3 linked regions of the Homo sapiens genome follow. The protein of the gene in region 1 purifies or fractionates together with the protein of each later gene. This does not show direct contact. Each region holds a gene or a part of one and is shown on either strand. Other genes may lie near its edges.

The links.
Region 2: the proteins of ARSK (region 1) and PON2 purify together in Homo sapiens (affinity purification with mass spectrometry; 3 studies listed by BioGRID and IntAct, with this or other methods). This does not show direct contact.
Region 3: the proteins of ARSK (region 1) and MAPKAP1 fractionate together in Homo sapiens (co-fractionation; one large-scale study listed by BioGRID). This does not show direct contact.

The regions. Positions count from the first base shown.
Region 1 is NC_000005.10:95,565,071-95,568,725, forward strand, and holds part of ARSK (arylsulfatase K precursor), read left to right. Parts: intron 1-927; coding exon 928-1,057; intron 1,058-2,819; coding exon 2,820-2,979; intron 2,980-3,655. UniProt on the Homo sapiens protein: Catalyzes the hydrolysis of pseudosubstrates such as p-nitrocatechol sulfate and p-nitrophenyl sulfate. Catalyzes the hydrolysis of the 2-sulfate groups of the 2-O-sulfo-D-glucuronate residues of chondroitin sulfate, heparin and heparitin sulfate.
Region 2 is NC_000007.14:95,411,026-95,414,680, reverse strand, and holds part of PON2 (serum paraoxonase/arylesterase 2), read left to right. Parts: intron 1-2,203; coding exon 2,204-2,369; intron 2,370-2,901; coding exon 2,902-3,028; intron 3,029-3,655. UniProt on the Homo sapiens protein: Capable of hydrolyzing lactones and a number of aromatic carboxylic acid esters. Has antioxidant activity. Is not associated with high density lipoprotein.
Region 3 is NC_000009.12:125,700,645-125,704,299, reverse strand, and holds part of MAPKAP1 (target of rapamycin complex 2 subunit MAPKAP1), read left to right. Parts: intron 1-3,655. UniProt on the Homo sapiens protein: Component of the mechanistic target of rapamycin complex 2 (mTORC2), which transduces signals from growth factors to pathways involved in proliferation, cytoskeletal organization, lipogenesis and anabolic output.

The sequences.
Region 1 (3,655 bases):
AACTGGAATTTATTTATAATTATGTTGAAAACATATAATAGATAGAACTCCAGGACTGGAACATTCTTTTTTCTGTTCTTGCTCTTTACCAACGTGAGTTCTTCAATTCCCAGTTCATCTCCAAAATGCATATCTCCAACCCAAACATCTCCTAATCTTCAGACTCACTTATCAAGCTGCCTAATTTTTTTTTGTAGAAACAGGGTCTCCCTGTGTTGCCCAGGCTGGTCTTGACCTCCTGAGCTCAAGCTATCCTCCCACCTCAGCCTCCCAAAGTGCTGGGATTATAGGCATGAGCCACCACACCCCACCCCAGCTGCCTAATTGATATCACCACTTCCATCTCACAGATATCTCAAACTTTGTATGTCCTTTAAATTCTTTGAATAGCTGGATCCTGTTCATTCTTTAGGTCTCATACATCCCAGAGAAGGCTTCCCTGTCCACACTGTCTAACGTAGGTCTCTCTTGTCCTTCTGTATCTCGGATTTTTTTCAAAGCACACGTCATAATTTGTAATTATTCATAGTTTATTTGCCAGTATACTTTTTGCCTCTCCCACTAGACTGTAAGCTTCATGGGGCCTAAGACTCTGTTTTATTCACCATTGCATCCTCAGATTTTGCAGTGTCTGGCACATAGTTAAGTATTCAATAAATACTTAGTCAGTTCATCATCCCCCAAAAGAACATTCCAGGAAGTCCTTTATTTACTGTAGTTAAATGAATCCAAGTGTAACGCTGCACTGAATTCTAGCTATTTATGTACCAGATACTGGAAACACCCTCTATACTTGTTTTGTTTTTATCTTTGGAGGATTCTTAAAATCATATTGAAGTCTTCTGCTATTGTAAATTTTATGGTTAAAGAAAATAATTTTCTTCTTTGGTAATGTAATCAATGCTAATTAAATTTCTTTATTTCCAGGATGGAAGGTTAACATTTCATCCAGGAAGTCAGGTAGTGAAACTTCCTTTTATCAACTTTATGAAGACACGTGGGACTTCCTTTCTGAATGCCTACACAAACTCTCCAATTTGTTGCCCATCACGCGCAGGTATGAACATCCTTAATATGAATGGGAGAAAGTGGCTACACACTGAAAATATATTCACAGTTTAAAAGATTATACCTAAAAGTAGAATAGTTGTATTTGGCCTCAATAAAATTGTTTTAATATAAAAGATGTGCATTTTAAGGTATATATTGGCTATTGGGGTTGTTCAAATTGTATTTTTCAAGAGTAGGAATTTTTATCATTTAGAAAGGTGTCTAGTTCATGTGTTACCGTTTTATTTCCTTGTGACTGGGGACTAAGAATCTTTTGGCCATCCAAGAAAATGAGGGAATACTCATATTTCCTAGAAGAGTTCTGTTTCCAGGGAAATTTTTCAGTAACGGTATAGGTAATTGGGAGGACTTCTATGAACATTAGAGTATACCATAAAGTAGTTACAACTTATATTCAGATTTACCTGAATTTTTTCTTATTATTTCAGATTACATACTTTACCTCTTTCTTTCCGTCTCAATTCACTTTTATCCCAAGTCAAATTGTTCACTTTTATTATAATAATTTAACAAATAGGCATAGTTTTATTGGCAGAATGTCAGTGACATTAAGCCATGAATAATTAACAAATAGGAAAAAACTGCCATTTTTATAAATTCTATCTATTGTCTGATGGTTGTTTTCCTTTTCCCCTGTCTTCTGGTTTATGTTTGTTGCCTTGGAACACATAAATGGCACTCAGTGATTTGGTTTGTCTGTAAATGAGATGATTTTCTCTGTGATTTGAGTTATAACTTCTTTCACCTATATTTTCAACACTAACAACTATATTATTACCAGTGATGAAAAGAAACTAAACTATATTGTAAATGATATTTCAATAATGAAGGACCAGGCATATTAAAAAACAGTTTTGTTAACTGTAAAGTAGAATGAGCAGTGGGCTAGGGTGAGACAATGACCTGGATGCTAATCCTCAAGCAAGTCACTCAGTCTTCTTATCTGCAAATTGCTGTGTATACTGTGTACCTCACAGGGTTGTTCTGAGCATCACATTAAATAACGAATGAGAAAGTGGCCAATGAACCCTAGATGTCTCAAAATGTTAGATGTTGTTTTTCCTGGAAGAAGTATATTTTGAAGAGTAAGCAAGGTCAAATAATTTGTCAAAGACCACTCAGTAACTGGTGTTATTGGGATTCAAACCCAGGTAATCCCCCATCCCACCTCTCAGAAAACATCTTGCTAGATGAAAACAGAAAGCTTATTCTAACTTTCTATTTATGTACACAGAAATGGGAAAAGGAAAAAAAGTGTTTATTGAATAAACAATCATAGTTGTAGAAAGTGAGAGATAAGGCATAACACACTACGTTTTTTGTGGAAAGCCAGCAAAAGGACAGGGAATAAGGGAAGATCCTTAAGGATGTTGGGGAAATGAGATCTGTACTTCAATTGTCTGATTTAGAAAATTAACCAATAAATACTTAGGGATTGTTTTTATGATTGAAAGAGGCCTCTAGTCACACATGCTTTGTATTTAATTCCAGCTGTATTTACCTTAAGTAACTTAAGCACTAAGCGTTAGTCAACTCATCTGTAAAATGGAAATAGTAACTCCCCACAGAGTATCACTCTGATAAAATGAGGTAACAATCAGAAATGTTTGGTAAGGCACCTAATCTGGGTACGTCTTACTGCAGAGCATAAGCTCTTCACTAGTGGACTGCTCTCTCAGAGTAATTGTCCTAATAGTTAAATTGTTAAGCTTTACCTTAATCCCAATTCCTTTTTTTTTTTTTCTCAGCAATGTGGAGTGGCCTCTTCACTCACTTAACAGAATCTTGGAATAATTTTAAGGGTCTAGATCCAAATTATACAACATGGATGGATGTCATGGAGAGGCATGGCTACCGAACACAGAAATTTGGGAAACTGGACTATACTTCAGGACATCACTCCATTAGGTAAAAATAAAACAAAAATAATCATCATGGACTGCCCTCTGCCATAGCGTGTACATGTACTCTTTTTGACTTTAATTTTTTTATTTTTCCACAAAGGTGAAAGTAAATCTCTTAATCCCTTCATTGTGTTAATTAGGCTGAAATTTTAGCTTTCTTTCATCTTCCTAAAACATTAAAATGGCTAATATACTAGTCATTTTGTTTTTCTTAAGCATTAAAGGTCTATAAATAGTGTTTGTAAACTCGTTTAGCCCACGCTTTATTTTCATTGAATTTCCTTTAATGGCTACTGTATTATTAATTTTAAAATCTGTTTTTAAAACCATAGCCTTCTTGCTGCTTTCGTTGGTCAGTTCTCTCTAACTTGAGTCTATTGTAACTTTTTTTTTTCTTTCATTTTACTAAGTCCTCAAAAACCAGGCAGCCAAGCATAGTGGTTAAGAGTAGAGGTCAAGAATCAGATTGCCTGCTTTTGAATTATAGTTTCTGTTTACTACTAGCATTGTAGTAGTCTGATCTTGGACACATTGTCTAAATGTTGACACTGTACTTTAATTTCTTTGCTGTGAGGATTAAATGTATCAATAAGTTCAGAAAAGAGCTAACATAGGAGGCCTGAGACTGCTCTCCTTAGAAAGGCCTGCTTGGAAGGTTGGCCCCTGTCTGGCATCTAGGA
Region 2 (3,655 bases), on another chromosome or scaffold:
TAAAGTAGAAGGCAGTTGCATTGATTTTTTTATTTGTTTATTTGTGTTTTTTGTTGTTGTTTTGCAAGGATGTGTTCTTGGAGATTTTTATAATCTAGAATTCACCTATTTCAAGATTTCTCTCCAGCCCCCATAGTAATAAATCTGAAGTAGGAGGGATGAGGTCTCCAAACACATAAATCTACAGCCATTTTAGCTTGGGGGCATGTTATAGTTACAAAGATCTTATAGCCATATCAATAGAACTTTTTCTGCTTTTTTTCTGTTACCCTCCTTTGCTCATTTGACTTTTTTTAAAATTTAGAAACATTCCCAGTTTGCTGCTGTTTTTCATTTACTTGGCATTGTCTCTAATAAAACCTAGAGTGTACTCTCTTCTAAATAAAGAGGTCCTACATTGTGGAGGTTGTTCATTCTTCTTCCTAGCATTTTAGCTCATCTAACCCAACCTATTTTACAGTTATGGGTTGAGGGTCACCTCAAAACTAATGTCACACTTCATGAAGAATTGGATGACATAGAATAAAATATAAAAAATGTAAACAATGTGAGTGTGCTTAACACCACTGAACTGTACACTTAAAAATGGTGAAAGTGATGAATGTTGTATGTATTTTATCATAATTAAAAATAAATTTTTAAAAAGAGAAAAAATACTTAAATAAATAAGGAGTGCGAACATAACCATGACTAGTTATCACCATCTGATAGTGCTTCCTTTGCATGTAAATCATGCTTTTGTTTTGGGGACATTCATAAAGAATAGGGATTAACTGAAGTGGCACTGCCATGTAACAATAGCATAATTCCAGTTTGTTCTACTTACCAGGCTTGCCCTCCATGAAAATATACAATTGTAGATAATCTTTTTTAATTGGAGAGATTTCCTCTTATGTCCAATTTTATACATAAAGTAAGACTTTTTTATTGTGTGCCTAAATTTGTGTAAATATGACTGCATCGTATTAGTAAACTGAATTAGGTAGTGCATTCACATAAAATTTAACATCACCAAGAAGGCTTTACCTTAAGAATGTAATGATGAATCACCATTTTAGATAGACTGATAGGTAATTTATTAACTGATTTAAAAGAGAAAAGACCTATATCATCTCAGTGAGTACCAAAAAGCATTTAATAAAATTCAATACTCATTCCTAAAGTTCCAAGCAAACTAGAAAGATAAGGAAAATTCCCACAAAACTACAGCAAACATCATTCTTGATGGTGAAGCATTGGCTGCATTTGCATTAATGCTCAGAACAGGAAGAAAATACCCAACACCACAACCATCAGTAATCTACTAGAGTTCTTAGTAATTCAGTAAAACGAGAAAAAGAAATGTGAGATAGAAAAGAAAAAGACAAAACTGTCATTAGAGAAGCAGGGACTGGCTCAATTGCCCAGGCTGATGTGCAGTAGTGCAATCATAGCTCACTGCAGCCTGAACTCCTAAACTCCTGCGCTCAAGAGGTCCTTCCACCTCAGCCTTCCGAGCAGCTAGGACTACAAGTGCTCACCATAACACTCAGCTAATTTTTTTTTTTTTTTTTTTTTTTTTTTTTGTAGAGACAGAGTCTTGCTATGTTGCCCAGGCTGGTCTCAAACTGCTGGCCTCAAGCAGTCCTCCCACGTCAGCCTCCCAAAGTGCTGGAATTATAGGCATGAGCCACCAGGCCTGACCTAAAGCTGTAGTAATTTAAAAAGTGTTATATTGGCACAGGAATAGACATGAGACATTAAAATAACAAAACAGAGAGTCCCTAAATAGACCAATATGTAAATGTCAGAGATCTAGCACATGATAAAGGTGATATTTTGAATCAGTGGGAGAAGGATGGACTGTATGCCAGGCACTGTTCCAGGCACTGGGATCTAGCAGTGAACAAATTTCCACAGTCAGTATGTAGATGTCACTTTTCTCCACCCTCAGCTCTCCCTGGAATCACCTAGTCCACCAACCTTCTGATTACTCTCTGAAGAGAATAAATCCCTGATCTTCTTTTCAGTTATTTTCAGGCTTTCAGTATTCCACCTCCCCGTTATTATTTTTTCTGTTATCTTTTCTCTGTTTTTTGAGTTTTTGTGGCTTTATGCCACTACTTTAACCACAATCTCTATTTATCCTTCATGTACAGTTCCCATGTTAGTCCATAAAAATACTTAAGCTTTTGTATTTAACATTTTTCACCGTTTTGGAAAGGGTCTAAAATTCCCAGGACTCCACAGCTTTGCACCAGATAAGCCTGGAGGAATACTAATGATGGATCTAAAAGAAGAAAAACCAAGGGCACGGGAATTAAGAATCAGTCGTGGGTTTGATTTGGCCTCATTCAATCCACATGGCATCAGCACTTTCATAGACAACGGTAAGAGCCAATGGGCTACCAACATTTAGTAACGTGTGATGGTTCACAAATGACTGTGAAAAATAGATTTGGATCATATTTCTAGGAAGAGAAGAACAATTAACTCATGAGTGATTTCTGTATTCTTCATTACAAAGAACTTGTTCATTTGCCTCTTCAGCTGGCAGTAAGTTATGCTACATTTTGAAATTCCTAACAGGTAACACCTGAAAGAATGTTTAGATTTCATAATCTTTTCATATACCTACGATCATCACATTTAAAAAAGAACTGTATTTTTGAATTAAAGTAGAAACAGATTATGCATGAATTCTGTATATGGAGTAGGAAACACTTTCTTAAAGGTCAGGGAGCCAATGATCAGAAATAACACCAGACGGACAGCAATAGGAAAGACAGAGAATGATCTGTTAGGTCGTCTAACAGCTTATACATTCAACCTTTCCTTGCCTGTGGTATTTAAATGTCAGTGCCTGCCCAGAGGTCCCGTAGTTATGTCTTGTAAATTAACTCTGTTCTTTCAATTCTTTAGATGACACAGTTTATCTCTTTGTTGTAAACCACCCAGAATTCAAGAATACAGTGGAAATTTTTAAATTTGAAGAAGCAGAAAATTCTCTGTTGCATCTGAAAACAGTCAAACATGAGCTTCTTCCAAGGTACTTCCTCATTTTGTTCCTTCTCTAATTTATCCCCAGCATTTGCAAACAATCCCTATGGTGGGTTGTCCTGTCATCTTTTATAAGCGCTAATGTATATATTAGCTAATATGTAAGAGCTAAAGAGCTTATATTTCCTTATTTATAAATGTGTGTGTATAGTTTCCTTATAAACCAGGGCAAGCATGGCATATGAAAGTTGATGTCACTCATACTATTCACTGTTCTATGCGGACTCCTTTGAGAAATGATGAAGTGCCCGACTACAGGGTGATACTCTTCAGGCCCATCTTGAGGGTAGAAGGCAAACCCTAACATTTTTTCCTGCTGTCACCCTCCATCTTAGATGACTCATCACCCAGATGAGTGTCTTGCCAAGGAAGAATGGCCTGTTTTTTATTGGGTTTGTATGCTTTGCATGGGACTTTATACCAATCGCTTTCATAGGGTTAGTGATGGTTGCATGCTAGTAATCCCACAGAATTAGAGCCACTCAAGTTGAGAGTGAGTCATTACACTTCAAGAACATAAAGCTGGTTGAAAATGTGGCTAAGAGAGAATCATGTGTACCCCCACCCCCAGTTCAGTGTGTATTAGCCTACTGCTTCTTTTAGTTTAAACTTGATG
Region 3 (3,655 bases), on another chromosome or scaffold:
CCTGATTTTACAGATGAGGAAACTGGGGCACAGAGACCTTGAATAACTTCCTTGAGTTTATGCTGCTGGTAGAGCTGTAAGATAGAGGGGATTATCTGCTGAACACTGAGATCGGCACTCTTCATTACTACACCATGTTGCTTGTTCTTTGTGATGTGGATGCGGACCCTCTGGAAAGGCTTCAGAGAGAAACTTGCCCTTGAGCTGTAGCTTCAGTGTGCCAGTCATTGTGAGACAGGAGGGATCACGAGGAATGGAAGTGGCCTTTGCACTAAAGGAGCTCATAGCCTTATCTGTTACTTTAAATGTTTTTCTTTTTTGGTGGGGGAGCTTGTTTTGCTTATTGACTTATACCTGAAGACTTCAGAAACTTTTGCAGTTGAGTGGATTTATATGATTCAGCCTAAGATAATTTGCTGGCAATCTGTTATTCTGATGTATAGGCCTTACTGTTACGGACGCAGTTGTAGATGTCAAATTATTATATGACAAGGACTTCTGTCACGTTACTTGTTTTTTTTTTTTTTTTTGAGACAGTCTTGCTCTATCACCCAGGGTGGAGTGCAGTGGCATGATCTTGGCTGACTGCAACCTCTGCCTCCTGGGTTCAAGAGATTCTCTTGCCTCAGCCTCCCAAGTAGCTGGGACTATAGGCAGGTGCCACCACGCCTGGCCAATTTTTGTGTTTTTAGTAGAAACGGGGTTTTGCTGTGTTGGCCAGGCTGGTCTCAAACTCCTGACCTCAAGTGATCTGCCTGCCTCGGGCTCTCAAAGTGCTGGGATTACAGGCGTGAGCCACCATTCGTGGCCACATTACGTTTTTTCCCTATGGGAGGTGCCCTGACTTGTTTCTGTGAGTTCGAAGTTTTTGTGAAGTTTTTTGACTCAGAAGTCAGCATATTTCAGCTTGTGTTAAATTTAAGAGGCTTAGTGGTTAAATATGTTACTTAAGAGTCACAGAGCTAATGTGTGATAGAGCCACAAAAAACTGGCCAAAAAAGAGTAAACAAATCTTCATTAAATTATTATTATTGTTCTGTTTGAGCATCTTCCTCAGTGGTCTCCAAGTCCGATGCCTGTTATGTACTAGGATGAGTAGGCTGGGCCTTGATGAACTGGAGAGCACGGGCCCAAACTAAAGGGAGCAGTTGCTGCTCAGCTCCACTTGCTTGTTGCCATGTGAGGAAGTGGGCCCAGTGTCCTTGGATCTTTTGACACTTTTTGGAAAAGATGCTGGAAATCTGGATTTTAATTTATTCTTATTTATTTATTTAACTTTTAGAGACAGGGTATCGTCCTATCAGGCTAGAGTGCAGTTTCGTGGTAATAGCTCACTACAGCCTTGAATTCTGGGCTCAAGTGATCCTCCCACCTCTGCCTCCCCAATAGCTAGGACTACAGGCGCATGCCACTATGTGTAGCTAGTTTTTTTTTTTTTTCTTTTTTTGAGACAAAGTCTCGCTCTTGTTGCCCAGGCTGGAGTGCAGTGGCATGACCTTGGCTCACTGCAATGTCCGCCTCCCGGGTTCAAGCGATTCTCTTGCCTCAGCCTCCTGAGTAGCTGGGACTACAGGTGCCCATCACCACGCCCAGCTAATTTTTGTATTTTTAGTAGAGACAGGGTTTTGCCGTGTTGGCCAGGCTGGTCTTGAACTCTTGACCTCAAGTGATCCGCCTGCTTCAGGCTCTCAAAGTGCTGGGATTACAGGGGTGAGCCATTGCATCCGGCCATGTACTAGCTAGTTGTTGCTTTTATTTTTTTTGTGGGAAGGAGTTTCGCTCTTGTTGCCCAGGCTGGAGTGCAATGGCGCGATCTTGACTCACTGCAACCTCCACCTCCTGGGTTCAAGCAATTCTCCTGCCTCAGCCTCCTGAGTAGCTGGGATTACAGGTATGCGCCACCACGCCTGGCTAATTTTGTATTTTTAGTAGAGGCGGGGTTTCTGCATGTTGGTCAGGCTGGTCTCGAACTCCCGACCTCAGGTGATCCACCTGCCTTGGCCTCCCAAAGTGCTGGGACTACAGGCGTGAGCCACTGCGCCCGGCCTAATTTTTAAAAAAATTTTGTAGAGATGGTGTCTATCTATGTTGCCTAGGCTGGTCTTGAACTCCTGCCTTCAAATGATACTCCTGCCATGGCCTCCCAAATTGTTGGGATTACAGGTGTGAGCCACTGCATGTCGTGGATTTTAATGTATTTAGTTTAAAAATTTGCCATTAAAAATTATGTTGATCAAAACATATTTGTGGGCTGAGTGTAATTCTAGGCTGCCTGATTGTGAACTCCAACCTACCTGGCTGCTGAAATTTTGGTACCTGTTGTTCAGAGCAGGAAGTATACAATACAATGTTTTGATTATTGATTAGAAATCTCATGGTAAATTGCCAGTGTGAGGGGGCATTGTAGCTTGCGCTGATAGTTTTGGAGAGTGGCAAGGTCAATGCTTTTATTGTATAATCAAGCTAAAGTATAGATCTGGCTGGTGAGATGACCTTATAACACTTCTATTTTGTGCTCTTAGCACTTTAAATGCTACCAGATTTCTTGTCTCTTGGCCCTCTCCACAATAGTATGAAGTGGTATGGTAAATTTGTTAAATGCTCTTGTATACCTTATTTTCTTTAGTCTTCATAGTCCTATGAGATAGGTAGTATTACAAAGGGGGTAATCATCACCTCTTGAGATGAAGAAATCGGCACCCAGTGAATCACAGTTTAGTGGAAAGAGCAGTTGACTAGAGAGGGTGTTGCATCCTGAATATGCGGATACCACTAACAGCCAGTGAATCACAGTTTAGTAGCAAGTGCAGTTGACTAGAGAGTGATTTGCATCCTGAATATGCGGATACCGCTAACAGCCTTTGGAGTTTGGTCACGTCACTTACAAATCCTCGGATCTTTTTTCCTTTTTGGATAAATAATGAGGAGTAAAATTCAAGTCTTGCTGAAATTCAATTCGTAATATCCTATACTTGAGTATACTTTTACTAATATACTTTTATTACTGATGCAAAGTATACTGAATGTGTAAAACTTCAAAAAAATAACATTTTCCAGTTCCCTGCGGACTCATTTTAAGGTACTGTGTTACAAATAAGTACCATTTCAGCAGAGAAATTGGTAGAAAATTGAAGGAATGGTTTTCTTTTCGGGATGCCAAGCTTTCTGTTTCTAATTGATATGCTTAAAGTCACACAACTGATTACTGGCAGACTCCAGTGGAGATGACTCAAATCTAAAATGCTGCCCCTCCTCTCTTGCTGGCAGGTCAGGAACCACTACTCAGCTCTTCATCTGTTCTTTATTCATTACTTCCTCTGGGAAAGGCCCTTGATGGGCCAGGTGCTCCCCCAGTGCATGCAGTGCCTATTGACTATATGTACTCAAGATTGAAAGGGGGCGTAGAGACACCCAGCACAGTGAGAGAAATATGGTCAGGGAGTTCCCAGCCCAAGAGTTTAATTTATTTTTATTTTAATACCCAGCTTTCACAAGGTGAAAATTGAAGAAATACTGGTCTTGTAGATACTTGTTTTCATTCATACTCTATTGTATAAGGAAATAACAGAATATAAAAATAAAGGGAATAAATCCTGAGCAGTCATTCAAAATTTATTAACTCTAGTTGGCAGCAGTCTAGATATATTGGGGAAAT